Regions from separate parts of the Homo sapiens genome. Here all the other regions are reported to be linked to region 4. Evidence: microRNA targets listed by miRTarBase, many of them from high-throughput screens and not tested one by one. Region 4 holds a microRNA gene; each other region holds the end of a gene's coding sequence.
Evidence for each region. Region 4 holds the annotated microRNA hsa-miR-6760-5p (CAGGGAGAAGGUGGAAGUGCAGA, at 2,103-2,125, shown strand). A microRNA usually pairs through its seed, bases 2 to 8, with sites in the 3' UTR of a target mRNA and lowers its output. Matches are read on the target gene's strand: a 7mer-m8 pairs with bases 2 to 8, a 7mer-A1 pairs with bases 2 to 7 and ends in A, and an 8mer does both.

Region 1 (7,119 bases), not on the chromosome of region 4:
AATCTAAGTCTGTTTCCTTATCTGTAAAATGGGGTCAAATAACCTTGAAGGATTACTGTAAGGATGAAATAGCAATTCATAAAATCTCTTAGCACAATGCCTAGAAAACAGCAAGCACTTAATAATTGAAGGTGTATTTCATTATTACTATTAAAATATGTGAGGGTTTTTAAATTGACTTTTCCCCAGCCAACTACACCCTGCACAAGCTTTTACAATGGTTTCAAATGTGGAATTTTACCTCAAACCTTTGTAAATGTAATCCCCTCCAGGTTATATTTTATCACATTTAAAGACAAGTCCCAAGAAGGTATAAAATAACTTTCTATCCTGCCCCGTTAGCTGAACAGCAGCTGCTGCTGGAGGGGATTTAGCCTTGGCCAGGCTGCAGAGCCCAGGGCGATGAACACTCCTGAAAGGTTCCTGCTTAGTTCTCACTTTCTCTGAGAAACCCTTTGTTAGCAAGTACATGCACGCAGTCCCATAAGGGCCTTGAATCAGGGTAATGGAAAATTCTGTCAGGTTGAAGGGACTGAGGGGGCTTGAGTCTTGCTGCCAAGCGATGGCCTCCCCCGGGGCTGTGCTGCCCTTAGCTGAAGGTGGAGATAGATAAAGAAAAGCATTAGCCTCCAACCCCCAAATCATCTCCCCACCCGCCGGCTTGATGAGGTGCTTAGAAGTCTCATGGTTGTCATTCCTTTGGTTTAAGGCTTTGAAGGTACTGTATCTATAAACATCATATATATTGCCATGAAGAGCTTGACTCAGTTTATTCATCTGCAGCTCTGTAATTCTGATAATGGGCCCCACAAGAGTACAAGAGCCTGCTTGTACTCTATCCAAGACTCTGTCCTAGTGCCTTGCTTAGTAACCCAGCTACTAGGGTGAAGTTCCGCTCTGCCCATGTCAGACTCCCTTCCCTGAGTCTGGAAGTCCAGCTCCAAATCCAGATCAGGGTCTGGGGCCCTACTGCCAGCTGAGACATGTCCCCAGCAGTGCCTGCCTGCCTGTCTGGTGTCTTACACAACTTCCACGGCTTGGCTTCCCTGCTATGTGCTCCTCCACCCTCCCCATTCCCCACCTCTCTGTGTACTTGATGTTTTGCTGCTTTGACTTCCCTGATGCTAAGGCTACTCTGGGCCATGCCCTGCTGGCTCTTTCCCAGCCCCTTTGGATATAGTCTTCTTCCAACAAGCCTGGACTGTACTCCTTTCTGTCCCCGAGCACCCCTGCCTCCCCTCTCCAGCCCTACCCCACAGAATAGGCCTAGTTTAGAAGGCCCAAAGTGTGTTATCAGAATTGATACTGGTGGATTCTGACAGTCTTCCTGATCATGAAAAAAAAATAGGGCTTTTAGAACTTAACATATATTTTCTTGTTTTAATTCAGATCTTTTACATATGCCCCTTCTGCTTCCTTGAGTAAAAAGATTACTGTCCTTTGAATTTTTTGCAGAAAGAGGTATGTGTGTTTTGCTACAGTTGGCGCCAAACCATGCTGTTTTAGTTACTGCTTGAATTCTGTCTTTCAAAAATGTTGGACTAAACTGAGATAAGGGACAGCTGTATTCTGGAATTTTCTGGAAGGAATTTAGATTCACCCACCTGGGTTCCTCCCCTGCGCATCAGTGCCTGGCTTCTAAACTTTCACATCTCAGCTTCAATGTTACCTCCTCAGAAAAGACTTTCCGCTACCCTATCTGAATACTAGAATCTCTCAGCCCACCTTTGCTAACCCCTTGTTCCCTTCATGACACTTGTCACAATTTATTTTCTTTAGCCCTGGGTGTGGTGAATCACACCTGTAATCCTAGCACTTTGGGAGGCTGAGGCAAGTGTATCACCTGAGGCCAGGAGTTCGAGACCGGCCTTGCCAACATGGCAAAACTCCATCTCTACTAAAAATGGTGTTGCATGCCTGTAATCCCAGCTACTCAGGAGGCTAAGGCACAAGAATCACTCGAACCAAGGAGGCGGCGTTTGCAGTGAGCCAAGATCGCGCCGCTGCACTCCAGCCTGGGCAACACAGTGAGGCCCTGTCACACATACACACAAAAAAATTATTTTATTTGTTTATTTGTGTTAGAGTGCCTTCCCCACCAAACTCTAAGATCCAAAAGGCAGAAATCATGTCTGGTCTCTAAAATTATACTCCTAAAGCCTAACATAATGCCTACCTGAAAATAGCTGGTCAATAATTCTTTGTTGAGTGACAATATTTTCCACTTGAAACAGTAAAAAACTATAGACTCTACCTATCTCTGATGATCATCAAGTGACCAGTGAAAGGGAAAATCCTTAATCATATTCTACTTAAAAATCTAGGATTTTAAAAAATCTGTTTATTATCAAGGACCAACTGCAGGGGCTTCCAGAACTTCCTGAGGATTGGGACGTGGGCAGCTCCCTCCAGCCTCGCTGTTTTCCTGATTTCCACATCATGACAGCAATCCTTCAAGATGCCTGCAAGGTGCCTACCGTCCTTGTTCTTTTGTTTTTCTCTCTGGTATCGCAATTTGCTATTAGGAAAAAATCTGAAACCCATTCATACTATGATTTTACATAGGAGTATTATTAGCATTTAACCACTTAAACACTTGAGCCATTGGAATGAAACATTCTGGTCTTATCTGGCACTGGAGGAAGCAATTTAAGGAAATGGGCCTAAAGAGGCCTGCAACTTGAGTGTGTTCACTCTATTACCAACCAGCTTATGCTCTTTAGTGATGAAGCTTTAGAAGGGAGGGAGAAAGAAAGAAAATGAGAGTAGACATACATGAGGTTGAAATCTTACTATAAGTTACTTTTTGTAGTCCAGCATATAATGAACTGTTAAATGTTAATGACTATGTTTATAAACATGTGAGATGGACTGTTTTTTTTTTTTTCTAGGAGAAAAAAATGGGTTCCAAGTGCTTTCTCTGGTTAGACTACTGCGGTATCTCTGGGTGGAGCACCTTATCCTCAGACAGAGGCCAGGTGTACTCCTAAGTCTCCATATTGGTGTCATAATATGCGTTCTATGATCTCTTTGCAAGACCTTTTTTAAAAAGCTTTCCTGCCCTGATAAACAAGACTGATTGGTAGTTAAGATTACACTTCTGTTTGTCTTTCCTAATCTTCTCTCAGAAATGACACCCATTTGTTGGTGAAAGGCTAAGTGGCCGGTCCCTTGACCCTTTGTTTGGAGCAACAGTTATTTCTCTTCTTCCAAATAGATGAAATATCAATAGCGAGCCAGTGAGAAGCAGCCCCACTCTCAGGGAGCTCTCCTGGGCGTCAGTTTACGTATCTGTAAAATGGTGATACAAACACCTATTTCACAGACTCATCCTTGGGGTCTATACTTCTTTAAAGCCTTCTCATTTTTAGGTCCAGGTCAGGTCTCCCCTCTTCTCTGTGTAGTTTGTTAGTTTTTTGTTTTGTTCTGTTTTGTTTTATTTTTTATGTATCACCTCCTGGAGCCTATGGTTCCTAGAATTGATGATAAATGAATTCGTGTTTAATTCTGTTCTAATTGTTAGAATAGAATAATGTGAGTTACTCTGATCACATTAGGCAGATTGTGGGCTTGATAAAGGGAAGTTCTGGAATCATCCCTCAACATCCCATTTTCAAATACTGTGTATTCAAAACAATAACAAAAATAATCAGATAATAACAACAATTACCATGTAATGACTGTTATTTCCCAAGCACTCTGCTAAACTCTTTACAGTCAACTCAGTTAACAGCCCTATGAGGTACTTAACAGCTCAGTTAACAGCCCCATGAGGTAGATATTAATGGGGCCCAGTTTACAGATGAAGAAACCAAGGCTCAGAGATTGTCTTGCTGGAGTCCAGATGTAAGTTAACAACTGGAATTTTAACCATTGCATGCCTGACTTCAAAGCTCTTTGCATTACTGGCTTACTGATGGGTATAGTCCAAGCGCTCCCCTCCCCACCAAGTCTGCCATCCTTCTCTTGTAGTCACAGTATGAAGTGGACAACAAAAGAGAGATAGATGTAGAGATAGATTTTATTAAGACAAATTACACATTTTACTATATTTTTCCTTTCTAAAACCCTCACCATCAAAGATTGATCCCACAGAATTTCTAATTCAAGAACACTCATTTCATAAAACATTTCAGAGATAGAAGGAGAGAAAATATTAATGCTAGGCAATAGATTAAAAGGTGTCCCCTCCAGGGACCCGGGATGATCAGACATTCCTTCCTAAATGGCATCCTAGTCACTTTCCTCCACCTCTCCACTCTCATTTATCTTTCCACCCAACAATAGCATCCAAGTGTCAGCAGAGGGCCCAGAGATGGGCAGGTGAGTCAGAGGTTGAACCTCCTTCTGAGCCTTTACCCTCCTCTGTCCCAACCTCTTGTGGCTATCTGTTTAGGTTAATAACTGCCAGGCAGCCGGAGAGGAGAGCAGGAAGACACAAGTTTCTCTGTGGTTTCCTTTCCTTATTTCAGGACTCCCCAAGCCTTTACCCATCCCATCAGCACCCACACACACACACACGTGCATTTTAATAATGTAATAATCCCTCTATAAGTCTCAGTTTCCAATTCCAAGCATCGTTTACCTTCATCCAAAACAACAGCAACCCATTATGGATCCAGTGAATACAGAGACCAGGCCAATCCCTGGGGAAGGCAAGGCTTTTCTACAGCCCCCACTTGGCAGTCTCATTAGGGGCACTAGGGAGACATAGGAATCTCTGCGCTCTTTAAATAAAGGCCCTGCCAAGAGAGCTGGAGATTCCCCTACTATTTCCTTGCCCCTGCTAAAGCCTCCAGGAGAGAGAGATCTGGGGGCCTCCATAGCTGTCATCACACCTCCTCTTGGCACTAAGTTGGCAGTCAGCAAAGGAAGTAAATAGGAGGGGAAAATAGTTTTCCAGTGTTTTCTCTCCATTTTTATTTTCATCTTCACAGCAGAATTTTTTTTTCCACAAGGGGAATCTGAGAAGTACAATGCTTTCTTTGTTTTAACAAGGCCTGGGGAAATTCCACTGGCCTCAGTGGCTGATGATCTGGTCAGGGTTCGAGAGAGGACAACAGCTTCTTGGATATTCCTGTTGGTAAGGCCTTCAGGGAATGGCTGGGTGAACAGCCAAGGGAGAAAGGGAAGGGATGGTTTCTATCATTGGATTGAACTGTAAAGGAGCTGCAGGGTGACAGATGTTGGCAGGAATTCCAGTAGAGTTTGTGTGTACAGTGACTCCCTAGCAGGGCTGACACCTGCACAGGCTAGGTGTACACCCTAGCAGAAGGAAAGGTTGCAACATCACCAAGGTGGGGCATTTGCCAGAGGTACATACCAGGGCATTTGCCAGAGGTACATACCAAGGCATTTGTAAAGCTGAGGCTGCTGGTAAAGTTCCAAGAAGCCCTTTTTAAGGCTGAGTAGAGGGAGGAGAAGCCAAGGGCAACCCAAGGCCATCTCACCACTACTCCGAGGAATGGTCCATGGAGACAACAGATTCAAGAGCACATATAATGCAAGTTCCTTGATTCATGCTGTCTATTGGCTGGGAACTTTGAGCTCTTCCTTGGAGGAGGGAGGGTGATCAGGTCAAGGAGGTAGGAACTTAGAGAACGCATTTGGTATGCTGCTGGTATGTAGAGAGAGAGTCATTCTATCCCTCTGGCTATCCCTTCCAGGCCAGCTTTTGCCATGCTTCCCTTCTTTCCCTCTACCCTGTTTCATGAGTAATCTGAAAGGCTTCGTATACTGGGTAGAGGGTGGGGAGGGAACTGCAGTCTGGGTGGGTTGTCACCTCTCTTACTATCCCAGAGCCCTGGTTATAGTTTCTAGAATTAATGAGCAACGTCATTGAGACCCGGGGCTCAAAGGAGCCAAGCAGTGATGACAGTGAGAAAGCATCAGTTCAGAAGGGACACGTCTTTCCTCTCTGAGCCTCCTTTGTTCCCACCTGGTCCTGATCCTCCCATAAAGGAGGGTCACACTGATAGGTCATCTGACCTTGCCTTGCTGCTGGCCTTACTAAGACGTCGCTTGTCACTATGATAGCCATGGGGAAGGCGGTGACCTGGTGAGACTCCATTGGGCACCTCAGGCTTCTGGCCATAACGAACCTGGATGAAACCTTCCCCAGGAGTCTGCTCCTGACCTCGTACTTGCTCGGTGACCAGGTTGTCTGTGTTTTGTTGGGAGGCCATATTATTGCTGAAGGGATTGAAGAATTTTCCCCCAGGGCCATTCTCCAGGCACTGATTAAAGTCGGGGGGTGGTGTGCAGCTCTGGACTATGCCCACAGAGGGGCCAGAAAGCTGGCACTTAGCCATGTGCTGCCGCGGTTTGACAAATCGCTGTCTGATCTTCTTCCAGCCCAGGTGGTAGAGTTCAGCCAGGCTAAGGAGGAGGGACAGTGCAGCCACAGCCAGCATAAAGACAATGAAGACATTCTTCTCTGTGGGCCGGGATACGTAACAGTTGACCGGGTGGGGACAGGGACTCCTGCGGCAGACATGCAGGGTGGTCAGGAAGATTCCGTAGATGAAGTACTGGCCCACAATGAAGCCCACCTCCATGGTGGTGCGGATCAGGATGCTGCACACATAGGTGTTGAGCAGAGTGCCCTGGAGGGCAATCCTTCCATTCCCTTCCTCCCAGCAGGACAGTTCTGCCTTCTCTGCCACCGGGTACTCGTAAGAGCCAGAGCCCCGGACCTCTTTGGCCCTCTCGGCCTCCCGTAGCTTGCGCTTCTCCTGCATGCGCACAGTGTGCATGGCGTGGCCCATGTACACCAGAGAGGGCGTGGAGACGAAGATGATCTGCAGCACCCAGTAGCGAATGTGGGAGATGGGGAAAGCCTGGTCGTAGCAGACATTCTGGCAGCCAGGCTGAATCGTATCACACCGGAAATCAGCCTGCTCATCCCCCCAGGAAGACTCAGCAGCTGTGCCCAGCACGAGCATACGGAATATGAAGAGGACAGTGAGCCAGACCTTGCCTACCACGGTCGAGTGCTTGTGTACTTCCTCCAGGAAATTTCCCAGGAAGCTCCAATCGCCCATCTTGGCACAGCCAGGGAACAGATGCCAAAACTTCTGCAAATGGGAGAGAGAGAAAGAGAGAAAAGAAGAAGGATGT
Region 2 (7,119 bases), not on the chromosome of region 4:
TGCTGGCCTCGACTGTAAGTCCCTCTCTCGAGGGCTCTGTGTCTCCATTCCTGTGCTCTCGGTTGAGTTTGGGTAAATACTGTCTACGAAGGTGAAATAGTGTGTGCCCTAATCGTGTGGCTCTAAACAGACCATTCTGTAAGATATAAATTATATCTTTTTTGTTTTTTCGAGATGGAGTCTCACTCTGTCGCCCAGGCTGGAGTTTAATGGTGCGATCTCAGCTCACTGCAACCTCCGCCTCCCGGGTTTAAGCAATTCTCCAGCCTCAGCCTCCTGAGTAGCTGGGACTACAGGCGTTCACCACCATGCCCGGCTCATTTTTTTTTGTTGTATTTTTAGTAAAGATGGGGTTTTGCTGTGTTGGCCAGGCTGGTCTCAAACTCCTGACCTCAGGTGATCCACCCCCCTGCCTTGGCCTCGCAAAGTGCTGCAATTACAGGTGTGAGCCTCTGTGCCCGGCCCGATATAAACTATATCTTAATAATCACACAACACATTTATCACGTGTCCTTGCTAATTAGGGGTTACAGAAAACATGGTAAGTGGCATCCAAAAATAATCTAAAAAAGTCCTGCATTAATCATTAATTCCAGTGACTTTTCCAAATAATTATTACTTTTCCCCCTCACATTTGTGAATAGCTCACACATTGTTAGTGGGGGACCGGCATTTGGTTGGTCCTAAGAAGATACAGGCTGATGAAATTTCTAAAAAGTGAAATAACTCCCCATTTAGTAGTTTAGTACATCAGAGAGGTAAAATCTTGCAGCAGCGGTCCTGGGAGGGAGGGTGGAGGCCGGGATGAGGAGAGTGTCTTGCCTGCTTGGTAGCTGGTTCCCTTGACTTTCTTCTGAAATGAGTGTCTTTCTGTCTGCCTGTTGCCTCTCGTAGCCCGAGTTCTTTCAGGTCTGCCACACCAAGAAGGACTATGAAGAGTACGGGCCCAGCATCTGCCGCCACAACCCCGTCTTTGGAGTCATGTCCTAGTGTCTGCCTGAACGCGTCGTTCGATGGTGTCACGTTGGGGAACAAGTGTCCTTCAGAACCCAGAGAAGGCCGCCGTTCTGTAAATAGCGACGTCGGTGTTGCTGCCCAGCAGCGTGCTTGCATTGCCGGTGCATGAGGCGCGGCGCGGGCCCTTCAGTAAAAGCCATTTATCCGTGTGCCGACCGCTGTCTGCCAGCCTCCTCCTTCTCCCGCCCTCCTCACCCTCGCTCTCCCTCCTCCTCCTCCTCCGAGCTGCTAGCTGACAAATACAATTCTGAAGGAATCCAAATGTGACTTTGAAAATTGTTAGAGAAAACAACATTAGAAAATGGCGCAAAATCGTTAGGTCCCAGGAGAGAATGTGGGGGCGCAAACCCTTTTCCTCCCAGCCTATTTTTGTAAATAAAATGTTTAAACTTGAAATACAAATCGATGTTTATATTTCCTATCATTTTGTATTTTATGGTATTTGGTACAACTGGCTGATACTAAGCACGAATAGATATTGATGTTATGGAGTGCTGTAATCCAAAGTTTTTAATTGTGAGGCATGTTCTGATATGTTTATAGGCAAACAAATAAAACAGCAAACTTTTTTGCCACATGTTTGCTAGAAAATGATTATACTTTATTGGAGTGACATGAAGTTTGAACACTAAACAGTAATGTATGAGAATTACTACAGATACATGTATCTTTTAGTTTTTTTTGTTTGAACTTTCTGGAGCTGTTTTATAGAAGATGATGGTTTGTTGTCGGTGAGTGTTGGATGAAATACTTCCTTGCACCATTGTAATAAAAGCTGTTAGAATATTTGTAAATATCTTTCTGCTGTAGTGTGGTGGTCTGTTGGTTTTCTCCCTGTCGCTGTGCCTCCTTTAAAGAATATTGACATTGTTTTACATCATTGGAGAATTTGATTAATACTCAGCTTGTGGGAGGAAATGTCTTTTCGCGAATGGTGTGGGCTGCCTGCCCCGCAGTGACCACTCCATCGCTGGGGGTATCGTGGGTCTGGATAACCCGTCAGAGATGGTTTTTGAATCTGGGGTATAGTGGGAAGGAGTGCCTAATGATTTCTGATGTTCCTTCCTAGAAGTTCAGGATTCATGACTGTAAGCTTTCAGTAACTACTCTGATGTTTGCTGAATGGACTGCTAGCTTGAAAGGTAATTTGCTCAATTAATAGATTTAGGTTGATTTCACTCTTCATATTATTCTTATAATTATGTTACTTTAAAAATTGTTATTTATGGTATTTCTTCTAAGTTGTGAAGTATGTTTTTTTTTTGTTCTGTTTTAAAATTTTTTCCTTAGTTTCACTCTCAAAGGAGGTGAATGAAATATGTTTTGTTCTCAGAAAATTTGCCTTCATAAAGAAACGTAGCCAGGTGCAGTGGTGTGCGCCTGAAGTCCCAGCTCCTCAGAAGGCTGAGGCAGGAGGATCACTTGAGTCCAGGAGGTCAAGGCTGCAGTAAGCTAGGATTGAGCCACTGTATTGCAGCCTGGGTGACAGAGTGAGACTCCATGTCTTAAATAAAACAAAAACAAGAAAAAAAAAGTTATGTTATTATTTGAGTTTAGAAATAAGTTTAATATTGAACTCAGTATGGTGAAATCTGAGTTTACCAACCTCAGTTGACCGAATCTCTGATACTGTCACTGTGCTAGGCCCTCAGTCTCCCCAGTCAAGAGTCTGGTACCACCTGGTTCTCCCCTCATCCGTAGTGTTTCTCTGCATTCCCTTGGGGGATTTGCTGCTTCTCGGGATTGCTGTACCGTTGGCTTCTCATGATCTTCCAGCCATTTTATTGCATCAAGTTCCCGGTTGGTCTGCCTGCCTTCAGTCACACCTTTGCACCCTGAACGTGGCAGCGAGAGCCGTTCCTTCTAACGCCATTTTCCTCTTAGTTCTGTGCTATTCAGGGACCTACCTGATACTCCCATCTCCACCCTGCCCCGCCCGATTCAGCATGCTTTGCACATCTCACAGTGGGCACCGTCATTCCCACCTCTGCTCTGCATCTGTGCGTTGGCAGGTGCTTTGTTGCGCCTTCTCCAAACCCTGGGAATAACACCACTCTGTATGTCAGTGCTGTGGCAGCCTGGCTAAGCTAGAGCTGTATGAGCTGTCCTTCCACCACAGGATACCCAAAGCTTCCCTGTGCCTTCTTTGGTACAAGATTAGCTTTGAGATTGTACTTCTGTTTGTCAACTTAAAGAACTGTGGGAGAATATATATATATATATTTTTTTTTTAAATTTTTTTTTTAAGATGGAGTTTTGCTCTTGTCCCCCAGGCTGGAGTGCAATGGCGCAATCTTGGCTCACCACAACCTCTGCCTCCCGGGTTCAAGCGATTCTCCTGCCTCAGCCTCCTAAGTAGCTGGGATTACAGGCGTGCACCACCATGCCCGGCTAATTTTGTATTTTTAGTAGAGATGAAGTTTCTCCATGTTGGTCAGGCTGGTCTCAAACTCCCCACCTCGGGTGATCTGCCCGCCTTGGCCTACCAAAGTGCTGGGATTACAGGCGTGAGCCACCGTGCCAGGCCGAGAACATTTTGTTTTAAACCTACATTGACAGGACAGAATGATCCATTACAATGTGACAGGTATGATGCTGTGGTTCTCAACCCTGGGCAAGACCCATCCCAAATTAAGAGAATCAGAATAGGAGCCCCAGGGAAGGCATCCAATTTTTGCTTTTTGTTTTTAAACTCCTTAGGCAATGCCAGCGTAGCTGGATCTGAAAGGCTTATGAGCAGAAGGAAGGGTTTTTGACTCAAAAAGATCTGAATACCAATTCTGGCTGTTCCTCAAGCAAATGAGATCCTATTTTCTGTTTGCTCATCTGTGGGAGAATTGTAATGGTCCTTTTCCTGTTAATAGAGGTGAGTTATCATTTTTTGTTTATTCAGTGAGCCTGGCAGATACTATAGATAGAAATGAACTGTGATGGTCATGTGCACCCGTCATTTTATAAGGAAGAAAAATGTTTACAGTTAGTAAATTTGATAAAATCTGCACATACCTTTTGTTCAGGTTGAATGAGTTAGATCATAATATAGAAATGAGTTAAGTATTCCTAGAGTTGATGGGTAAAATCGACCTCCTATGACAAAACTACAACTCCAGGTGAGCAGTTTTCTGTAAAAAATATTTCATCAAATACACTCGTTAAATTCTAAAATTATAAGTCTACAGTCTTTAGGACTATTAAACCTTTTAATAGTGCAGGAGCCAGGTGTGGTGGTGAGTACCTGTAGTCTCAGCTACTGGGTAGGTGGAGGTGGTAGAATCCATTGAGCCCGGGAGCTCAAGGCTGCAGGAGCCAGGGTCATGCCACACACTCCAGCCTGGGCAACAGAGTGAGACCTTCTTAAAAAGTGCAGGAAGTTGCTTTGCCCTATTCAACAGATTTAGACATAAACTCAGCTTTACGATGGTGAGAATATGATACGAACGGCCTTAACTTAAAAAAAAAATCTGGCAACTAGTATGTGAATATTTAACAAACATTACCTTTCTAAGATGATATGACCGCTGGCTCAGAGTTGCTCTTTCCAACACACCTGAGGAAACAGCCTCTCACTTCTTTGCGGATATTCATCAGCTGTTCCTGAGGGTTTAACTTCTGTTTCGTGAACTTTTAAGCCAAGATTAGACTAAGTAACATGAAGCTTATGAGTTTGTTTCTGCATATGGTGAGGGTTGGGGAAAAAATGAGAGAAAAGACTCCTGAAGTGGGGTCTGTAGAAGAGGAGCCAATCAGGGCTGCTGAGGACGGGGGAGGTGACCGCATCGCTTACAGAGGGAGGAAGGGTAAACGCAGAAGGCACCTGGTGCTTGCGTTGACCAACTGCAGGTGGGTGGGGGACTCTCTCTGATTGAGTTTCCATTTCCATGTAGCCTAAATTGAGGAGGGAAGAAGGCGAGGCTTTCTTAGGGGTTGGGGTTTGGGTTTTGCCAGGCAAATGTGATGATGGGTGGGGCAGGTGTCCTGGGGGCAGGCAGGTGTAGACGGGGTTTCTCTGCTGCTAACATGAGGGACCACGGACTCCAGGTAGGGTGGGAGCAGAGGGAGATGAGAGATTGGGAGGAATGGAGGCGTCTGAGGACTGGCGGCCCTGGGCTTCAAGGTTAGGAGGTTGTGGTCCTGAAGAACGATACTGATTAAGATTTCAGAGGTGGAGCACCTCTCAGTGATAACAGGGTCATGGAAGTGGTGATTGTGTAGAGTTTAAATTCACTGGAAATGGAAGAATGTAGGGAATTTTGAGAGAAGGGCATTGGATAGGTTGTCTGGTGGGTGCTGGCTCACGCAGGACGCTGTGGGGGTGGAGATGAAAGTAAGACTGGTCCAGCTGCCTGAAGTCGTGCCTCAGTCTCGGGGGTGGCAAGGAGCTGAGCATTGACCGTGAGCTGGGCACTGCGCCGAGAGTCACCCCACGTTGGGAGTGATGCTGTGTAGCCTCCTTTCACCTGAACCGAACCCTATGAAGTTGGTATTGCTACTCCCATTTTCCAGACAGGAAACCTGTGGCTGAAAGAAATTCAACAACATGCCAAAACCACACAGCCAGGACACCGAGAAGTCATATTGAATCTATTTTCTCCAGTCTTGTAGAAGTAGGTCATAGCAACTGGTGAGAGACCGGGTGGTAAAACCCAGTGATAGGAATCTGCAGCATGACTTCATCAGATAGTAGAGTAGAAAGAGTTTGGAAATGGCCATGGGGAGCTGGAAATCCCCCTCGAATCCAGATCCCTTGGTATGTAACGTGTTCCAGGAAGCTACTGATGCGGGATGTTTAGATGTAAAATTATTTTCATTTTTGTTCACAGCGCTTTGTTAATACATGTCTTATCAGGTGCACTGGCTTTATGTTACAAGGCAAATACAAGATGGTTGTTAATCTGAGTGCTTAGAACCATAATTAGCCCCTAGTAAGTGTTCAATAAATTCTAGCCATTATTATTATTCTGTTACAAAGCAGTTGCTGTGTCTTAAGAGCTCTACTTATCAAAATTGTGTTTAAAAAATTTTCAGCATAGGAAAAGGGAATTTTAGATTCATGAACTGTATTGCCTTTAGGAATTCCATTAAGAAAGGGTTAGAAAAAAGATACTAGTATGTAGTTGTAGAATGCAGACTCACGGGGCTTTTCTTACCACTGTAGCTGATATGATTGAATCACTTTTATCGTCCATCTAAGGAAAAGGAAGCCACTTGGAGCCCTGGGTTGCCTGCATGGCAGCTGTCTCCCCACTAGGCTCCAGACCAAGTCATCCCATCTGAGCCACATGAGGATGTCTCTGTTTTGGGCTGTGCATGTTCCATAGCCTTGCCACTTGGGGGCAGTATGGTGGAAGGTGCCCTGAGTGGCCCCCCTGGAGGTGTTTGTTCCCTTCCCTGGAGTGCTCTTGCCTGTCCGGGATGTTCACCCTCCTCTGCTGCTGCCCCTCTGTGTGTAGAAGACAGCCCCTCCTTTACCAATGCACCAATGACACCTGTGTCCCTCGCTGGACTGACGTCCTGGAACATGGGGGCCGTATGGTGCTTATCTTGGGAACCCCCGAGGCCTTCACAAGGTCTGGTAGGTGCCCCGTAGACACTTAACTAAGCTCCTATCCGACAAGAAGAAGGCATCACTGGTTTTCCTGGGCTGCGTGTGCTCTGGTGCTGAGACACATTGTGTGTCTGGATAACTGTAGGACGGTGAGCACCCAGGATGTAGCTATCGTTACCTTAAGAGTTTAATGGTATCATAAAATCTAACTCTTGGGCATGGACTTCAGGAGGGTTTTGGGAACCTGAAGAGTAGAGGATCAAGCTTGTCTAAGGCTGCCGCCTGCCTGCGTCTGCTGTGCCGCCAGCCAGAGGCCGGTGGAGCAATCACCCTGCAGAATCCTTGAAGATGTGCCTGTGTTTTATGGCAGTCGTAGCTCATTCCACAGCTTTACTCATATGAATAATGAGCTCTCGTGTGACTGAAGTGCAGATCGTTCGGTGATTAATTCGTTCTTTATGATCCCTCCTTTATATCTCATTTGTAGAAATTACGATTGTGCCAGACAGGCTTGTGGGGTTAATCAAGTGCAAAGCTTATTGAAAACCACAAGAGAG
Region 3 (7,119 bases), not on the chromosome of region 4:
GCCACCATGCCCAGCTAATTTTTTTTTGTATTTTTAGTAGACAGGGTTTCACCATGTTGGTCAGGCTGGTCTCAAACTCCTGGCCTCAAGTGATCCGCCTGACTCAGCCTACCAAAGTGCTGATTACAAGTGTGAGCCACCGTGCCCAGCCACACTCACTGATTCTTTAATGCCAGCCACACAGCACAAAGTTCAGAGAAATGCCTCCATCATAGCATGTCAATATGTTCATACTCTTAGGTTCATAATGTTCTTAACATTAGGTTCATAAGCAAAATAAGAAAAAAGAATAATAAATAAAAGAAGTGGCATGTCAGGACCTCACCTGAAAAGCCAAACACAGAATCATGAAGGTGAATGCAGAGGTGACACCAACACAAAGGTGTATATATGGTTTCCTGTGGGGAGTATGTACGGAGGCAGCAGTGAGTGAGACTGCAAACGTCAGAAGGGCACGGGTCACTGAGAGCCTAGTATCCTAAGTAAAGTGGGCTCTCTCCCTCTCTCTCCAGCTTGTCATTGAAAACCAGTCCACCAAGCTTGTTGGTTCGCACAGCAAGAGTACATAGAGTTTGAAATAATACATAGGATTTTAAGAGGGAGACACTGTCTCTAAAAAAAAAAACAACAGCAACAACAAAAAGCAACAACCATTACAATTTTATGTTCCCTCAGCATTCTCAGAGCTGAGGAATGGGAGAGGTCTATGGGAACCCCCCTTCATGTTCCGGCCTTCAGCCATGGCCCTGGATACATGCACTCATCTGTCTTACAATGTCATCCCCCAGGAGGGCCCGGAAGAAAACAGTGCCTATGAGCAGTTGCTGTCTCGCTTGGAAGAAATCGCTGAGGAAGGTCAGTTTGTTGGTCTGGCCACTAATCTCTGTGGCCTAGTTCATAAAGAATCACCCTTTGGAGCTTCAGGTCTGAGGCTGGAGATGGGCTCCCTCCAGTGCAGGAGGGATTGAAGCATGAGCCAGCGCTCATCTTGATAATAACCATGAAGCTGACAGACACAGTTACCCGCAAACGGCTGCCTACAGATTGAAAACCAAGCAAAAACCGCCGGGCACGGTGGCTCACGCCTGTAATCCCAGCACTTTGGGAGGCCAAGGCAGGTGGATCACGAGGTCAAGAGATCAAGACCATCCTGGCCAACATGGTGAAACCCCATCTCTACTAAAAATACGAAAAAATAGCCAGGCGTGGTGGCGGGTGCCTGTAATCCCAGCTACTCGGGAGGCTGAGGCAGGAGAATGGCATGAACCCGGGAGGCAGAAGTTGCAGTGAGCCGAGATCGTGCCACTGCACTCCAGCCTGGGCAACAGAGCGAGACTCTTGTCTCAAAAAAAAAAAAAAAAAAGAAAACCAAGCAAAAACCAAAATGAGACAAAAAAAACAAGACCAAAAAATGGTGTTTGGAATTGTCAAGGTCAAGTCTGGAGAGCTAAACTTTTTCTGAGAACTGTTTATCTTTAATAAGCATCAAATATTTTAACTTTGTAAATACTTTTGTTGGAAATCGTTCTCTTCTTAGTCACTCTTGGGTCATTTTAAATCTCACTTACTCTACTAGACCTTTTAGGTTTCTGCTAGACTAGGTAGAACTCTGCCTTTGCATTTCTTGTGTCTGTTTTGTATAGTTATCAATATTCATATTTATTTACAAGTTATTCAGATCATTTTTTCTTTTCTTTTCTTTTTTTTTTTTTTTACATCTTTAGTAGAGACAGGGTTTCACCATATTGGCCAGGCTGCTCTCAAACTCCTGACCTTGTGATCCACCAGCCTCGGCCTCCCAAAGTGCTGGGATTCATTTTTTCTTTTTAATTTGCTCTGGGCTTAAACTTGTGGCCCAGCACTTTATGATGGTACACAGAGTTAAGAGTGTAGACTCAGACGGTCTTTCTTCTTTCCTTCTCTTCCTTCCTCCCTTCCCTCCCACCTTCCCTTCTCTCCTTCCTTTCTTTCTTCCTCTCTTGCTTCCTCAGGCCTCTTCCAGTTGCTCCAAAGCCCTGTACTTTTTTTTGAGTTACGTCTTATGGGAAGGGCCTGCACTTAGCGAAGAAGTGGTCTCAGAGTTGAGTTACCTTGGCTTCTGGGAGGTGAAACTGTATCCCTATACCCTGAAGCTTTAAGGGGGTGCAATGTAGATGAGACCCCAACATAGATCCTCTTCACAGGCTCAGAGACTCAGGTCCCAGGACTGGACATATCTGCACTCCTGCCCTCTGACTTCAGCCGCTACTTCCAATATGAGGGGTCTCTGACTACACCGCCCTGTGCCCAGGGTGTCATCTGGACTGTGTTTAACCAGACAGTGATGCTGAGTGCTAAGCAGGTGGGCCTGGGGTGTGTGTGGACACAGTGGGTGCGGGGGAAAGAGGATGTAAGATGAGATGAGAAACAGGAGAAGAAAGAAATCAAGGCTGGGCTCTGTGGCTTACGCCTATAATCCCACCACGTTGGGAGGCTGAGGTGGGAGAATGGTTTGAGCCCAGGAGTTCAAGACAAGGCGGGGCAACATAGTGTGACCCCATCTCTACCAAAAAAACCCCAACAAAACCAAAAATAGCCGGGCATGGTGGTATGCGCCTAGTCCCAGCTACTCAAGGAGGCTGAGGTGGGAAGATCGCTTGATTCCAGGAGTTTGAGACTGCAGTGAGCTATGATCCCACCACTGCCTACCATCTTTAGGATACATTTATTTATTTATAAAAGAAATCAAGAGGCTGGATGGGGAATACAGGAGCTGGAGGGTGGAGCCCTGAGGTGCTGGTTGTGAGCTGGCCTGGGACCCTTGTTTCCTGTCATGCCATGAACCCACCCACACTGTCCACTGACCTCCCTAGCTCCACACCCTCTCTGACACCCTGTGGGGACCTGGTGACTCTCGGCTACAGCTGAACTTCCGAGCGACGCAGCCTTTGAATGGGCGAGTGATTGAGGCCTCCTTCCCTGCTGGAGTGGACAGCAGTCCTCGGGCTGCTGAGCCAGGTACAGCTTTGTCTGGTTTCCCCCCAGCCAGTAGTCCCTTATCCTCCCATGTGTGTGCCAGTGTCTGTCATTGGTGGTCACAGCCCGCCTCTCACATCTCCTTTTTCTCTCCAGTCCAGCTGAATTCCTGCCTGGCTGCTGGTGAGTCTGCCCCTCCTCTTGGTCCTGATGCCAGGAGACTCCTCAGCACCATTCAGCCCCAGGGCTGCTCAGGACCGCCTCTGCTCCCTCTCCTTTTCTGCAGAACAGACCCCAACCCCAATATTAGAGAGGCAGATCATGGTGGGGATTCCCCCATTGTCCCCAGAGGCTAATTGATTAGAATGAAGCTTGAGAAATCTCCCAGCATCCCTCTCGCAAAACAATCCCCCCCCTTTTTTTAAAGATAGGGTCTCACTCTGTTGCCCAGGCTGGGGTGTTGTGGCACGATCATAGCTCACTGCAGCCTCGAACTCCTAGGCTCAGGCAATCCTTTCACCTTAGCTTCTCAAAGCACTGGGACTGTAGGCATGAGCCACTGTGCCTGGCCCCAAACGGCCCTTTTACTTGGCTTTTAGGAAGCAAAAACGGTGCTTATCTTACCCCTTCTCGTGTATCCACCCTCATCCCTTGGCTGGCCTCTTCTGGAGACTGAGGCACTAGGGGCTGCCTGAGAACTCGGGGCAGGGGTGGTGGAGTGCACTGAGGCAGGTGTTGAGGAACTCTGCAGACCCCTCTTCCTTCCCAAAGCAGCCCTCTCTGCTCTCCATCGCAGGTGACATCCTAGCCCTGGTTTTTGGCCTCCTTTTTGCTGTCACCAGCGTCGCGTTCCTTGTGCAGATGAGAAGGCAGCACAGGTATTACACTGACCCTTTCTTCAGGCACAAGCTTCCCCCACCCTTGTGGAGTCACTTCATGCAAAGCGCATGCAAATGAGCTGCTCCTGGGCCAGTTTTCTGATTAGCCTTTCCTGTTGTGTACACACAGAAGGGGAACCAAAGGGGGTGTGAGCTACCGCCCAGCAGAGGTAGCCGAGACTGGAGCCTAGAGGCTGGATCTTGGAGAATGTGAGAAGCCAGCCAGAGGCATCTGAGGGGGAGCCGGTAACTGTCCTGTCCTGCTCATTATGCCACTTCCTTTTAACTGCCAAGAAATTTTTTAAAATAAATATTTATAATAAAATATGTGTTAGTCACCTTTGTTCCCCAAATCAGAAGGATGGTATTTGAATTTCCTATTACTGTTATTAGCACGAATTTAGTGGTAATGCATTTATTCTATTACAGTTCGGAGGTCAGCAGTCAGATGTCAGTAGGGCTTGTTCCTCCTTCCACACATCACTCCAATCTCTTGCTCCCATTGTCACAACTCCTACCTCCACATTTGACCTCCTTGTCTCCTCAAGAACCCTTGGGATTACACTGGGCCTAACTAGATAACCAAGGATAATCATCCCATCTCAAAATCTTAATCACCAAGTTTCTTCCCATGTAAGATAAGAACAATGCACAGGATTAGAACATGGACATCTTTGGAGAAGGGGAATTATTCTGCCTACCACAGATGCTATCAGGAAGAGGACAGAAATGACTGATACTGTTGGGATGGCTGTGTGTGTGTGTGTGTTTGTGTGTGTGTGCAGTGTATGTGTTGAGGGGTAGGGCAGACAGCAGCCCTAGGCTTAACATCACACTCAGGCTTTTGGGTTTTCACCCTGCTCAAGGAAAATGTGTCACTTCTTGCAGTTTTTGCTTCAGGACGTGCTGTCTGGCCCAGCTGGCTGCTGGAACAGGGCGGTGCTATGGATGGCAGCTCCTCTGCCTGTAGGGCACAAGGCCCACGATGTCCCCCAGTCCTGTCAGACTCCCTGCTTCACAGAGCCTGTTCACAGCCCCTCCTCAATGAGCCCAGGCCCTCCATCCCAGTTTCCCCTGAAAAGGAAGTCCCAATGCAGAGCAAGGACCCAGGCCCTGCTCATTCAGGGGTCCCTCAAACTCCATTGCCAACACCAAAGAAAGGATTAAAGGGCCTTGAGAGGCTAGTAACATCAGTTTTATTGGGTTGGGGTGGCAACCATAGCCTGGCTGGGGGTGGGGCTGGCCCTCACAGGTTGTTGAGTTCCAGCAGGGTCTGGTCCAAGGTCTGGTGAATCTCGACGTTCTCCTCCTTGGCACTGGCCAAGGTCTCTGTGAGGGGAAGCAGCAGGTGAGGGAGAAGGGAGACACAAGGGGGAGACGTGGGGAGGCAGGGCCAGGGGAAGGTGACATATAGACATGGAGTGGGTCAAGGAAGACACATGCATTCACGGACCTCAGGGCCCCTTGGCAGGGACAAACAGATGGACTGACTAGGATGAGGGGAACAGGACGGACGTGGATGCCTCACTCAAGGCCTTGGGGTCATAGAGGTGGGGTGGGGAGGGCTGAGTCATAAACTACTTTATCCTCTTCTTTAGAAGGTTTAAGGAAGTTGGAGACAGAAGGTAAGACAAAGACTGCGCCAGGAAAGGAAGGGCCAGACAGACAGACTTGAGGTAGAAAACAGACCTGCTGCTGCAGTGAAAGCCCCATGTTGCTGATATCCAACATTTTTCCAAGCTCCATTCCAGACCTTTTGCAACCTTCTTGCCCCTGTCCTGCACCTCACCACCCTACTTCCTTTCCAGTCACTCTGTTTGATCCTGGAACCCCAGCTAAGTGCTCTGAGGTCAGGGATTGGCACCAGAGGCGGTCATGGTTTGATGGGGCCACACGTGCCCACATGCAGTGGTGAATCAGAGAGCGACAGCCAGGGAGTGCCTGTGCAGAGGGGTTTCAGCGTGGGCCATGGTGTTTTGTGGGTGGGCTCAGTGCAGGGGCTGGGGGTGTCAGTAAGTGCCAGGGTGTCAGGAGTGAACCAGTGCTCCGTGGTGGCGATAGAGGTGCTCTCTGGAGGGCAGGAAAACAGCATGGAGACCAAGTTCAGAATTTATTAAGCAGCAAAGGAGGGTGGAAGGGGATAGGTAAAGGATGAAGCCAGTGCCAGAGTGGGTGGTGGGCATGATGGGGGCTCTCCCTAGGCTGCTCCCAGCCTGGCTGTGCAATGTTGGCAATTTCTGCTCCTCCTGCCTGCTCCCCTCCCCATAGAGAGAATGGAAAGGAGAGGAGAGAAGAGAGCTGAGGTGGCCACGCTGGCGTGGGGCTCAGAGGGAGGTGATGTCATTGAGTGCGTTGTCCAGTTCCTCGCTAATGGCCTTGTACTTCATCTTCTGGGCATAGACTTCATCTGGGGGGGGTCCAGGGAGGGGACCAGGTGGGAGTGTGGGAAAGGGAGTGGAGGGAAAGAGGAAAGGAAGGAGAGAGAGCAATGGAAAGAAAAACAGAATCAGAGGTACACAAAGACAGAGTGAGAGAGGGAGGCCAGGGAACAGGCTGGACAGCTGTCAGGAACTCCTTCTCCCCATCTCTACCCCATCTCTTTTCTGTCCTTCTCTGTACCCCAAATTGGCTCTACCCATGGCAGCTCCTGCCTCTCCAGGGAGCTGTGTGTACAATGCTCTCGACAAGCAGGAGTGCTTGCTTAGAGGGGAGAGGGAGGGTGCTGGAGCCAGAAAGGGCAAACCTCCTAAAGCTGGAGGTAAAATTGGAGCTTGCCTGAGAAGGCTGGAAGCGAGAGAAGTGGGAAAGTGAAAGGGTTATCACAGAATAAAAAGGAAAGGCAACTTTAGCCACATCATCATTAACAATAGAAATAGCCACAGACTCACAAATATCTGGATGTTTGCTTTTGTCAAATCTAGCTTAAAATAGTGTTTTCTATTAGTGCTGTCATGCAGACCTAGATGTTCAGTCCAACAGCTCTCTAGTTAATAAGCCAGTCTCTGCACTAGAACTCTACTGCGTTACACTCGGGGACGGAATTGTCTATAAGGGTGCCACTCAGAGTGTGGCATGAGGACCAGCAGCATTGGCAGTACCAGAGAACTAGCTAGAAATGTAAATCCTCCAGCCCAAAGTCAGCAATCTCTTTGGGGCAGAGTCAAGGAATCTGTTTTTAAAACTCTCCCAGTGATTCTCATGCATGCTGAAGTTTGAGAAGCACTGGAGTTGTTGCGCCGTGGGCAGCTACAATTACTTGAATTGTAGACATGGCCCACAGAGTTGG
Region 4 (7,119 bases):
GGAAACTCTTCCCAAAACAAAATTGACTTGAACCATTTCTGGAACAAGGCAAGATACGTATAAATAAATAATAAATTCAAATGTGAACATGAATGTGTATGGGTCTCAATATGCATACATTGGGCATAGCATCCTGATTGTCCAGGTCATTATGTAGTTAAACATAATCACTATGACCTGCATTACCAGCCAAAGGCAAAAATACAGCCACAGCTCTTTTAATTCTCTAAGTAATGGCTCAAGTAATATACCCTCATGATGTTAACAAAGTTAACCAATTATTGATGCATTTATATGTGCCAGGCACCAAGCAAAGATATCTACCAAATTGCATTTGGCCAAACCACTTCATTTGCAGAACAACCCTATGAGATAGTTGCCTTTATAATCCCCATTTTATTAATAGGGAAACCGAGGCTGGGGAGATGAAGCCTCTTGCCTAAGATCGCATAACCGGAAAGTTGCAAAGTCAGAATGTGAGCCCAGATTTCTCTCCAAAGCCACAAGATTAAATGTATTAACATTTGAATGCTTCCTTCCAGGTAGAAATTTTTTAAGAATTAAGATCTACCAGCTGGGTGTGGTGGCTCATGCCTGTAATCCCAGCACTTTTGGGAGGCTGAGGTGGGTGGATTGCTTAAGCCCAGGAGTTAGAGACCAGCCTGGCCAACATGGAAAAACCCCGTCTCTACTAAAGATACAAAAAGTAGACAGACCTGGCATCACACACCTGTAATCCCAGCTACTCAGGAGGCTGAGGCAGGAGAATTGCTTGAACCCAGGAGGTGGAGGTTGCAGTGAGCCAAGATTGTGCCACTGCACTCCAGCCTGGGCAACAAAGCAAGACTCTGTCTTAAAAAAAAAAAAAAAAAAAGAAAAGAAAAAGAAATCTACCAGCTGGGCACAGTAGCTCATGCCTGTAATCCCAGCACTTTGGGAAGCCAAGGCAAGTGGGTTACTTGAACCCAGGAGTTCAAGACCAGCCTAGCCAACATGGCAAAACCCGTCTCTATTAAAACTACAAAAATTAACCCGTCATGGTAGTGCACACCTGTAATCCCAGTTACTCAGGAGGCTGAGATGGGAGGATCAATTGATCCCGGGAGTTGGAGGTTGCTGTGAGCCCTGATTGCACCACTGCACTCCAGCCTGGGTGACAGAGCGAGACCCTGTCTCGAAAAAAAAAAAAAAAAAAAAAAAAAATCGACCATAGACCCAGTTTAGTGAACTGCTGCATTCTGATTTTAACCACTCAAAACCTCTTTGTGTTAGATGTTTTCATTGCTCCCCATTTCAAAAAGAGAAACTGAGCTGGGCACGATGGCTCACTCCTGTAATCCCAGCACTTTGGGAGGCTGAAGCGGGTGGATCACCTGAGGTCAGGAGTTCAAGACCAGCCTGGCCAACATGGTGAAACCCCACCTCTACTAAAAATACAAAAAATAGCTGGGTGTGGTGGTGTGCACTTGTAATCCCAGCTACTTGGGAGGCTGAGGCAGGAAAATCTCGTGAACCCAGGAGGGGCAGCTTGCAGTGAGCCACGATTGTGCCACTGCACTCCAGCCTGGGTGACAAGAGTGAGACTCCATCTCAAAAAAAAAAAAAAGAAAAGAAAAGAAACTGAGACCCAGGGAGAGGAAGTGACTTGCCCAGGGGCTGCAATAACCTGTGGCCTGGGAAAGCACCTTTGCAGATGCCGTGTCTGGGACTCATTCCATACCAGGTGGCATGAGAGTTGGAACAGCTCTTGCCTTCAGACTAGCCAGGCCTGAAGTTAATGTGGCAGACAGAAGTATCTAGAAATGTGTGAAAACCTGCCAGTCCCACCCAGAGAGCCTCTCTCATCCTGCCTTCATAGAGCAGGAATGTTCTGACTCCTCTGGGGGTCCCAGGCACCCCACGAGAACCCAGAACCTCCTCAGAGGGGCATTTCTTCCTGTCCTCTCAGCTCAGGAGTAACCCCAGAGGCTGCTATTTCTTGTCCCCAGCCCAGACAGGGCTCTGTGACTGGTCTTCATAGCTCCAGGACAGGGTCCGGGACTAGGAAGGCAGGACCTGAGGCCCTCGGAGGTCTGCCTCCCCAACCCCTGCCTGAAACAGTGCAGGGAGAAGGTGGAAGTGCAGAGTGGGCTCACCTCTCGCCCACACTGTCCCCTTCTCCCCAGCGAGCTGAGGCTGCCCAGCGGGAGGTGGAAAGTCTCCGGGAACAGCTGGCCTCTGTCAACAGCTCCATCCGCCTGGCTTGCTGCTCTCCCCAGGGGCCCAGTGGGGTAAGGATGGGGTTGGGGAAGTGAGCAGGGAGGGCAGAGGGAAAGATCGGGAATGGCTGAGTTTGCAGGTTTCAGCATGTGGGTGACACTTTGTGGTTGATTGTGTGCATCCATTTGAAACTGGGAGTGTGAATGTGTGTGGGTCTCTGTGCATACGGTGAGCATAATCACTATGACCTGCTACACCAGCTGAGGATAAAAATACAGCTACAGTTCTTTACTTTTCAAGCCCACGTTTCCATATACCCTTTATTACCAGGAGTTCCAGTATCTTCCTTTGGAGGCCTCCCTTATCCCCAATTATCCAAGAATGCCAGGAACTTCCTCAGACCAAAGATCATTCTGATTTCCAGATGCACCAGCAAAGACATGGGGGAGAGGGAGTTTGAGGCAATACAGCAGCATGCAGTTTTGGTGGCTGCCACCAGGTGTCGCTGTTGAACACCGGTCATAGCAGCTTTGTGCATGCTTGGGATGGTGATGCCCCTGCTGGTTTTCAGTCCCAAAACTGGGTACTTTTAGGAGTGTGAGCCAGCCAACATATCAACAGGCAGTCATCACCAGGACTGCAGTGGGGCCACATACCAAGATAAAATTTAACATTCATACTCAGCCATTGGTTTCCAAAGCATGCCAGGTGATTCTAGGGGGATTTCCCACCCCAGCCACATGCTATGAAGAGCCAGTCTTCGGTGATCAACCCTGAGGTTCTTGTGTTAGGCCTGATTAATCAATTCATCTTTCTCTTTCCTCCTGGTTTGTGCCTCTTTGGGGTCCTAGTGTCATTTCTTGACAAGAGACTTTCATCAAGGCCACCCCAACCTACCCTTCTGTCCTATATTAGCAGTCTCCATCCTGGCTCTCCCAGAGAGCCTTGGGTTCATTATGTGAATTGGTCTGCCTTATTTCCAGATCTCTACATACCAAGGGGTGAGATTCATGATTCCTTACATAATAACAGGTCTGCTCCAGGGTGACTTCCCTCTCCACCCATGAACCTGAACTTGCGAGCATAATTTTCACTTCACCTGACACCCACATATACAGGCCCAGGTGTCTATGTCTCTCTTTCTGTTTGAATATTGGAATGAGTCTCTATGAATGTGTTACTGTGTATGTGTGTCTCTACTTGTGACCTTTGGGCAACTGACTGTATTCTTAACCTGACTGTGCCTCAGTTTCCTCATCTGTACAATTAACATCTACTTTATAGGGTTATTAAAAGGATTACATGAGTCAGGCATGGTGGCACATGCCTGTAGTCCCAGCCTCTTAGGAGGCTGAGGCAGGAGGATCACTTGAGCCCAGGAGTTTGAGTCCAGCCTGGGCAATACAGCAAGATCCTGTCTCTGAAAAAAAAAATGGATTATGTGTAAAGTGCCTAAAATGGTGCTTGGGTCATTGTATATGCTCACTAAGTACTTGATGCTACTGTTATAATTGTTAATGTGTCTTTGGTGTGTCTGGGGTGTTTTTGCTCATGAGAGCATGTGGCTTCTTTGAGCACGCGCATGTCTGTTGTGTGTGATGATGTGTCCTTGTGAGTGTCTCTCTTTGATGCGTGTGTATTTGTGTGTGTGTGTCAGCATATTTGGGAAACTGCATGTGTTAGTGTGTGCTGTGGCTATAGGTGTGTCCTTGTGTGTCAGCCTGTGTCTGTGTCCCAGGAGATTCTGTGTGTGTCCATGTTCCTGGGTGACGGCATAACACAGAGAGAGTGAACACAGGAGAGAGAGGCTGTGTGGAGAGAGATGGAGAGTGAGAGCCCATGAGGATGCCTCGTAGAGGAATTTGCCAATGGTTCTTAATTAACCCCCGTGGAACCCGGCAAATGCCTGTGCTAATCAGCCCCAGGGAACTTTGCTGGTTTGGGGGGTGTGCTTTTCTGAGCACAACAGTGGCACTCGATGCTAATTAATTTAATGTATTAATGGCATCCGCTTCCTGTTTTAATTGGCATTTATCTCCATGGAAGAAAGCTGGGGTTGGGTTGGGGCTTTTTGTTTGTTTGGTTTTTTTTTTTTTTTAATGTTTCTTAGATTTATTTGTAACTAAGCCTGACATCAGCCTGACTTCAGGTTCCTCAAACAGCAACCTCTCCATCTTCATCCAGGACAGAGGGTCCATTTCCTAAAATGTGGAGAAGCCATGGGTCTTGGGGCTATCAGCAAATTAGGCGGAGGAAAGAGCCGCCCATAACGTGGTCCGTGGCTCCAAGGTGTCAAGTCTAATCCTGAGGGTCCCTTATTGCCTAGAATGGGGACATCCCCCTGGAGTAGGAGCCAGACCTGAGAAAGAAACTCAAACTTTTACCTATGCTGTTTCCTCTGGTGCGAGCACCCAATCCCCAACCTCAGCTGACTCCTTCCTTTTGTCATGGCTATTCTTTTTTAATAAATCTTTTAATCAAAGTGTAACTTAATACATAAGGAAAAGTGTACAAGTCATAAGTATACAACACTTTGAATTTTTCAACACAAGCACACCCCATACCATCATCCAGATCAACAAATTTGCATTCTGCTTGGGATTCAGGGGTGGGGAGGCCAGACCTGTGGACCCCCATCCCTCACCTCTCAGCCCCTCAAAGACCCCTTTGCCTGCAGGATAAGGTGAACTTCACTCTGTGCTCGGGCCCTCGGCTGGAGGCCGCGCTGGCCTCCAAGGACAGGGAGATCCTGCGGCTGCTGAAGGACGTGCAGCACCTCCAGAGCTCACTGCAGGAGCTGGAGGAGGCATCCGCCAACCAGATCGCCGACCTGGAGCGGCAGCTCACGGCCAAGTCCGAGGCCATAGAAGTGGGTCCTGGGGAGGAGGCAGGCGGGCAGGCGGCCCCATGCAGAAGCACACAGACCAGCCTCACCATCTTTCTTTGCTCTTCTAGAAGCTGGAAGAGAAGCTCCAGGCCCAGTCTGACTATGAGGAAATTAAAACGGAGCTGAGGTACCATGTGGGGTGGGGCTCCACAGACCCTCAGTGCTCTTCCCTGGCCAGGAGCTCTTGGCAAAGTTCATCATCTTCCTCCCTCCTACTAAACCCCATTTGTTCTTCTCTCCACTAACACTGTGGATATCAAACCTTAACCATCCTCAGGCCAGGTGCAGTGGCTCATCCCTGTAATCCCAACACTTTGGGAGGCCCAGGCAGGAGGATCGCTTGAGGTCAGGAGTTTGAGACCAGCCTGGGCAACAATGGGGAGACCCCATCTCTGTGAGAAAAAAACAATTTTAATTAGCCAGGAGTGGTGGTGATGCGTGCTGTAGTCCCAGCCACTCAGGAGGCTGATGTGGGAGGATTGCTTGAGCCTGAGAGGTCAAGGCTGCAGTGAGCTGTGGTGGCACCACTGCACTCCAGCCTGGACAACACAGTGAGACCCTGTCTCAAAAACAAAACGAAATTCAACCATCTTCAGTCCTTTTCCATTAAGAGCTGCCTGTACGGGCAGATCACCTGAGGTCAGGAGTTCAAAACCAGCCTGGCCGAAAGGGCAAAACCCTGTCTCTACTAAAAATACAGAAATTAGCCAGGTGTGGTGGCGCTCACCTGTAGTCCCAGCTACTTGGGAGGCTGAGGCAGGAGAATCGCTTGAACCTGGGAGGCAGAGATCGTGCCACTGCACTCCAGCCTGGGTGACAGAGTGAGACTCCATCTCAAAGAAAAAAAGAAGCTGCCTGTAGACCATACAAGGGAACTTATTATAGGCATGGTAACTGGAAGGTGATTCATTAACCAGCTAAACTCAAGCTGGCCAGAATGGGTCAGTTCAGGCAGCACCCCTCCAGGTAACATCGCCACCTGTTAATGAGCCTGCTACTTCAGGCCTGGGGTTGCAATGACTCTGGAATTAATGGGGTTCTGGGGAATGGAGCAGTCATTGTCAGGGAGGTAAGCCGGGTCAGTGCCTCTTGAAAGACCTCTCCTCCAGCCCGGGGGCTGGCTGACCTCAGACCCTCTCCACTTGCTCTGGCAGCATCCTGAAAGCCATGAAGCTGGCCTCCAGCACCTGCAGCCTCCCCCAGGTAAGTGTCCCTGCCACCATCCCTGCAGGGCAGGCTGCCCCAGTGAGCCTTCCGCCCACCAGGTGCCCTCTCAACCTGCCTCTTGTCTCCTAGGGCATGGCCAAGCCTGAAGACTCACTGCTTATTGCAAAGGAGGCCTTCTTCCCCACGCAGAAATTCCTTCTGGAGAAGCCCAGCCTCCTGGCCAGCCCTGGTAGGGGAGGAGGATACTCTGGGGCTGAGGGCTGGGGCGGGGGCTGCCTGTGGGTCTCTGGCCTTCTCATGCCCAAGGACCACTGCCTTCCATGCAGGCAGGAGAACGACAGAACAACAGGTGTGCATTGATTTGGCACCTGCTGTATGCCTGTCCTGCAGGGCATCCACAAACACCCACGTCATCGTTGGGGTCACACAGCTGGTTTGGGCCCTTCCAAGGCCCCCTAAAGAGCTCCACTCCCCACTGAGCCTTCTTGAGCTGCAGCGGCTTTCATGAAGTGGTCACAGGGGGACAAGCAGGGCATTGTCATTACACCCCCCACAGCCGACCACTGTGGGGAGCAGTAGGCTGCGGACATGATCACCCTGTCAGCCACCCGCTGACTTTTTTTTTGAGACCGAGTCTCTCTCTGTCGCCCAGGCTGGAGTGCAGTGGTGTGATCTCGGCTCACTGCAGCCTCCGCCTCCTGGGTTCAAGCAATTCACCTGCCTCGGCCTCCTGAGTAGCTGGGATTACAGGCATGCACCACCACACCCAGCTAAGTTTTATATTTTTAGCAGAGATGGGGTTTCATCACATTGGCCAGGCTGGTCTCAAACTCCTGACCTCAGGTGATCCGCCTGCCTCAGCCTCC

Region 1: miRTarBase lists GJA5 as a target of hsa-miR-6760-5p. Seed matches in the 3' UTR shown: 7mer-m8 at 5,119-5,125 and 8mer at 4,702-4,709.
Region 2: miRTarBase lists ACTR3B as a target of hsa-miR-6760-5p. Seed matches in the 3' UTR shown: 7mer-m8 at 1,219-1,225.
Region 3: the mRNA of TPM2 is a reported target of hsa-miR-6760-5p. The part of its 3' UTR that is shown has no 7-base or 8-base seed match.

Annotation. Positions count from the first base shown.
Region 1 is chr1:147,752,196-147,759,314 of GRCh38, forward strand. GJA5 (gap junction protein alpha 5) reads right to left here. Exons shown (of 2, transcript NM_181703.4): 2 at 4,004-7,076. The coding sequence starts at 7,043. The coding sequence ends at 5,967. All of the region lies in intron 1 of LOC102723321 (a long non-coding RNA gene), which reads left to right. Among named protein-coding and RNA genes, the nearest start is that of GJA5, 4.8 kb to the right of the region's middle. RefSeq lists an enhancer at 1-1,575 and a silencer at 6,186-6,480.
Region 2 is chr7:152,853,564-152,860,682 of GRCh38, forward strand. ACTR3B (actin related protein 3B) reads left to right here. Exons shown (of 12, transcript NM_020445.6): 11 at 1-14; 12 at 895-1,815. The coding sequence ends at 990. Among named protein-coding and RNA genes, the nearest start is that of ACTR3B, 97 kb to the left of the region's middle.
Region 3 is chr9:35,677,002-35,684,120 of GRCh38, forward strand. It overlaps TPM2 (tropomyosin 2), which reads right to left. Exons shown (of 9, transcript NM_003289.4): 9 at 5,931-6,240. The coding sequence ends at 6,158. CA9 (carbonic anhydrase 9) reads left to right here. Exons shown (of 11, transcript NM_001216.3): 6 at 789-855; 7 at 2,184-2,341; 8 at 2,853-2,997; 9 at 3,112-3,138; 10 at 3,752-3,833; 11 at 3,964-4,158. The coding sequence ends at 4,024. Among named protein-coding and RNA genes, the nearest start is that of CA9, 6.6 kb to the left of the region's middle.
Region 4 is chr12:111,302,045-111,309,163 of GRCh38, forward strand. MIR6760 (microRNA 6760) reads left to right here and starts at 2,098; the gene lies at 2,098-2,165. CUX2 (cut like homeobox 2) reads left to right here. Exons shown (of 22, transcript NM_015267.4): 10 at 2,166-2,270; 11 at 4,877-5,068; 12 at 5,155-5,213; 13 at 6,241-6,289; 14 at 6,383-6,482. The region is part of intron 2 of LOC105369983 (a long non-coding RNA gene); the gene reads right to left.